2 separate regions of the Homo sapiens genome follow, and region 2 is linked to region 1. The links come from fine-mapping of genetic effects on gene expression. Tissue or cell type: fibroblasts. Region 1 holds a variant in brackets; the other region holds the start of a gene. All regions are shown on one strand. Distances are between the middles of the regions.

Region 1 (2,759 bases):
TAATTAAATTTAAAATTAATAAATTAACATTACTAATTGATAAACCTGGCACTCAGAAACATTTCATTCCACTCGGAAACAATTTCTAGGTTAGGGATGTTTCTTTTTTACTTCACATGAATTCCTTAGCAAGCATAATGATTGCCAAGAAGTCATAATCAATCATAAGTGACTTACTCAATCCAAATCACTTCAAAAGCAAAAGCCACAAATCTTTTCAAAATAATTAACCCTATTTAATCAGTGATGTAGATCCATTTTATAGGTTCTAGTGATCCAGGGTAAGACCTCCAACACAGAGTACGCTGGGACAGTGAAGACCTTAAAATGGCCCTGGTGAATGGAAGCTTATGCGGACACTAAAAGCTTGGCTAAGTAAAAAAGAGAGATGTAAGAGAGGAGTTAAAGGCAAATGCAGGATGAAGGAAAATGTTACAGGCTGAGGAAAAAGTCACTAAAGAGTTGGAGACTAAAGATATAGAGAGATATAGGGGGAGAACAGGTCACTTCACGGCGTAAAGTCCTGAAGAAAACAAGTACGAGGGATCAACAGCACACATGTCTAAGGGATCTAAATAACAGGAGGAATGAAGAGGTACAGATTTAGAGAAAATCTGCAGGCCCAGCTTAGAAATTAAGATAATTTGTGCTTGAGTCCCACAATTATTATTATTATTATTATTTTAAAGGTAAGATCTTTTGCTGAATGTGCAGGGAATAGGGTTGGAAAGATGGCTTTAGAAGAGAGGCAAAGGGCCAGGTGCGGGGGCTCACGCCTATAATCCCAGCACTTTGGGAGGCTGTGGTGGGCAGATCACTTGAGGTCAGGAGTTCGAGACCAGCCTGGCCAACATGGTAAAACCCTGTCTCTACTAAACATACAAAGATTAGCTGGGTGTGGTGATGTGTGCCTGTAGTCCCAGATAGTCAGGAGGCTAAGGTGGGAGAATCGCTTGAACCCTGGAGGTGGAGGTTACAATGAGCCAAGATCACACAACTGCACTGCAGCCTGGGTGACAGAGCAAGACTGTCTCAAAAAAAAAAAAAAAAAAAAAA[G/AG]AAGAAGAAGAGGGGGAAAAGCAATTAAGAATTATCATAGTATTTTCAAGAACGTCTTCTCATATATTTCTTGTAATCACCCTGTGAGCTTGTGAGCACAGATATCACTAGTTGCCATATTACACATTAATAAAAGAAACCTGGACTCTAAGTTATACACGATCATTGATTTCAAATATCTTCTTAACTTTCTGTTTAACTTACGTTAAAGATCTCCTATTATTGAACTATAAATCTCAATTTTTCCAAGTGCTTACAAATATAGCTACAACACCTTTGATCTGGTCTCAGGACCATGACCTAAGCCACCTCCCTCCCCAGGGGCACTAAATATCTATCCCCCGCTCCCTGTCCTTGCTCAGGACTCAGCATTTAACAGTGGAGAGAAAAGTAAGACTGAAAGCCAAAAACTATGATGATTCTGAGCATGGTTTGATACTCCCAAGATTTTCAGAAATGTAGTTGACATCCAGTCTTAACAAACATTCCTGAGAACAAGGCATTTTCCCACAGGGTGTTTAGGGGTACTTAAATACATAAAACAGGGAGTGGTCAGTCACTAGGATTAAGATCAAAATGACAATTCTGAGAAGAAAGTCTCAGTAGTCATTAGATTTTTCTCTTTAATCAGAAACAAAGCACTGAAATGGATTTAAGATGTCCCAATTAAAACTGTTAAGAATACCAAATATGAGATCACCAAAAGATTAATGTCTCATCTCAGTTTATGCCTTCTTGCTTCAAATGCCAGAAAGGTGTTCGAATTCCAAGAACTAGATCCTATATGTGGATATCTTTTTGAATCCATGAGCGACAAAAAGAGAAGATTCCAAGTTCTCTCTTCATACTGCTTAACCTATCTGGTGGATCTGACATTACTGGCCATTCACACCTTGTTGAAAGCCCCTCCTCCCACAGCTTCTGTGACTATTGCATGCTCTAAGGTTTCCTCCTGTTCCTGGTGGGCTGCTCCTTCCTGCTTTCCAACATGAACTCCCTCCTGAAGGAGGGAATTTTTGTTCTTTCTCTACACTTATCTCCCTTTGGCTTATTCATTCTTATGGACTGAATTATCAGTGAGTAAATGGTGTCCAAATCTACATGCACAGCCTTAACCTCCAGCCAGTGATCTAGCTCCACAGTTCCAGTTTCTTCCTTTCTGTTGTGTTGCCATTCGTTAGTTCCCAGGCTGAAAACTTTATAATCACTACTTATTATTTTATATGGAATACTAAAAAACAAACAAAAGCCTGGTTAAAGTACACTTTTGAGAGCTGGGAGCCTCCATGTGATTATTCTTCCCAGCTGTCTGCCCGCTTGTATTGAATGAATCAAGAAAACCAAGTTAAGGCATGAAATACATCTCAAAGCATTGTTGTAATTTATTCTATTAGAAGTACATTTTATACAAACAAAGCTATATAGACTGGGCCATATCTAATACGGACTCAGAAGTGAGGAGAGAGGAGAGTCTAGGCAATGAGGCCATGTAAATCCAAAACTGTTACTGTATTCTTACAAAAACCAATACAGAACAACAAAGAGAACAAATAAAACTACACAAACCTCAGGTCTTCCACACATCCAAACTTCAAATTAACTGTAAGAAGAAAAATCAAAACAGAATCCCTATGAGCTCTCTTCCTTGTTCCAGCTGCAAGCCTGTGTGAATGGCAAGGACAGTGTGGGGAACACTGAATGGT
Region 2 (2,610 bases), 59 kb after region 1:
AAGCACTAAGAGCTAATAATGAAAATAAATCAAGTATTTCTCTGAGTTTTAGAAGTAACATTTTTTTCTGCTGTAGGACAAAACAAAAAAATACAATAGACCACTGACATTATGAAATGAGTTTTTGCATCTCGCTTCAGTGCGTATAATAGCTAGGACATGAATTAAGGCAAAAGCGAGAATGAACCTACGCCTTTTCATCTAGTCCACGGACTAGATGGACTCTTTTTTTTGAGACGGAGTTTTGCTCTTCTTGCCCAGGCTGGAGTGCAATGGCACGATCTCGGCTCACCGCAACCTCTGCCTCCTGGGTTCAAACTATTCTCTTACCTCAGCCTCCCGAGTAGCTGGGATTACAGGCATGCGCCACCACGCCCGGCTAATTTTGTATTTTCAGTAGAGATGGGGTTTCTCCATGTTGGTCAGGCTGGTCTGGAACTCCCGAACTCAAGTGATCCGCCCACCTCGGCCTCCCAAAGTGCTGGGATTACAGACGTGAGCCACCGCACGGCGCTTGGCCTTTTTTCTTTTTAAGACGGGGTCTCAGTCTGTCACCCAGGCTGGAGTGGAGTGATGTGATCTCAGCTCACTGGGCTGGGGCAGAGTGATGTGATCTCAGCTCATTGTAGCCTCAACATCCCGGGCTCAAGCGATCCTCCCGCCTCAGCCTCCTGAGCAGCTTTAACCACAGGCTGAGCCAATGCGCGCGACGGGAGACAATTAACTGGAGTCTGTAACACCTACTTGCGAATGTGTGCATTCCTCGTTAGACAACTACAGGTAAGAACTGAACTTGATATATTTCATGGTGTCACCCGTGGGACTCCAGGCGTCCATTCAGGAGCATCGTCCTTAGGAAGGCCAGCCCGCAGGTCGCAGCTCAGTGCTCGAATGCAGACTGGGAATTGTGGGCCAACTCGCGAGCCCTGGGTCGGTTCTGGCTCAGACCGTCTTCCCCGTACTGCTGTGCCGAGCGGACCGATCCAAGGGACCGCGCAGGCTCCCCCGGCTCTCCCTACGGGGACGTGTGCCTGGGCGTGTGACACGTGGCGGAGGCAGCGCGGTCTCAAGGAACAAGGACACGGGCTACTAGGCTACACGTATATGCACTTGCACACAACTGGAAGATCGACTCCTGCTTCAGACCAACTCCTCGCACTCGGCAAAGAAAGGAGAAGCGCCGACCAGCGCCTCTTCTGCCCCCTGGCGTGGACCCGCGGAACCGTCTACGCTCAGAGGGGCTTTCCCTCGAGCGCGAGGAACTGGAGCCCGGCTGGCCCCCGCCTCCGCCTCCGCCCCCCGGCCCCAGCTGCGCGGCGCCGCCTCACCCGCGATGCCGTAGTGCTGCGCGGTGGCGCAGGCCAGGCGGCCCGGCAGGTACGGGGAGAACTCGGCGGCGTAGCCGTGGCGTCCCGGCGTCCGCAGCATCCGCGCCGCTCCACCGCACACCGCACTCATCCCGCCCGCCGCCCCCGGCCCTCGCTGCCCCGGCCGCGGAAGCCGTTCCGAGTCGGAGGCACACTGGCGCGGTTAGAGAGACCAGGCAGACCGGACGGAAGTGTGGGCCCCGTGCCCTGTGTTTGAGATTCTGATTGGTCCGCACAGGAAAGGGCGTTGACTCCGACGGAGACCATTTTTGTTTTGGGTGAATCCAAACTGAATTGCGCCTGCTGCAAAGATACAGATCTATCAGGGGAGTGATCCAGGGTTAGGTATTATTAATAATTACGACAGCTTTTGTCGTTGCATCTCAGCCTCCTCTGCGGTGCTATCTGGTTTTTATTTCATTGAGCGTTTGGAAGACTGGCATCAGGAACTTTTCCTGATGATTATAAAGTGAGAAAAGTTACAGCCGACTCTGAAACCACGCAGCGCGTCCAAAATTGCGTGCTGCGTTGCCCAAGGAAACTGGAAGCAATGAGAACTTAAGTCCGTGGAGTCACTGCGGTCTTTAGGAATAAGAGCGTGGGCTGGTGGGCTACTTTCACACTGTAACTGGAAAAGATGAAACACCAACTCCAAACCAACTCCCCATGCTTGGCAAGTGAGAAAAAGGAGCTGGCCAGTTCTAATGAAGCTAAGCAAAAAAGCAGCACATCATCATATACAACTTTTTTAAAAAGTATTACTATACATGTATATATTGTATGGTAATAAGTGCTCAGATGCTGGTGCTCATTCATTCATTTATTGCCAGGCATATACTATGTGGAGAATGACCAAATATAATTTATCTGCCAAACCAAGATACTTTTGAGAGTAAAGAGGGTGTAATTATTAAGCCAGGTCAACAGGCACAAACCAAGTCGTATGATCATCTTAACCATATACCAAGAACAGTACTAGGCATTTGGGATTCAAAATAATGGGATATGGTCCATGGCCTCAAGAGATTAGAGAAGAAGACTAAAAGAGAAGTCATGTAATTAGTTAAGTGTAATCAAAATACTGTAGAGGCTATGATAAATTTATATGGGGTATTTTTAAAAGGTGATTGTCCGTGCCAGAGGTATGGAAATTGCAGGAAAGGCTGCAGAAGAGAGATAAGTCTTTATGGTGATTGCACACAGATGAGTAGGTTTTCTTTAGGTAGACAAGAAGATGGAGATC

Direction of the effects. Positions count from the first base shown, and alleles are read on the strand shown. Sizes are in standard deviations (SD) of each study's normalised expression.
For the expression in fibroblasts of the gene that starts at base 1,532 in region 2, allele G in region 1 goes with a higher level than allele AG (moderate effect, 0.57 SD a copy in GENCORD).

What was found. PIP is the estimated chance that this variant, and not a neighbour inherited with it, causes the effect.
Region 2: PEX7 starts here. The variant in region 1 is fine-mapped to the expression of PEX7 in fibroblasts (GENCORD, PIP 0.95).

What each region holds. Positions count from the first base shown.
Region 1 is chr6:136,880,473-136,883,231 of GRCh38, reverse strand. All of the region lies in intron 8 of PEX7 (peroxisomal biogenesis factor 7), which reads right to left. Among named protein-coding and RNA genes, the nearest start is that of SLC35D3, 40 kb to the left of the region's middle. The variant G/AG (reference allele first, on the strand shown) is at 1,057.
Region 2 is chr6:136,821,514-136,824,123 of GRCh38, reverse strand. It overlaps PEX7 (peroxisomal biogenesis factor 7), which reads right to left and starts at 1,532. Exons shown (of 10, transcript NM_000288.4): 1 at 1,329-1,532. The coding sequence starts at 1,458. RefSeq lists enhancers at 922-1,081, 463-1,195, 1,196-1,928, 1,812-1,961 and a silencer at 1,252-1,631.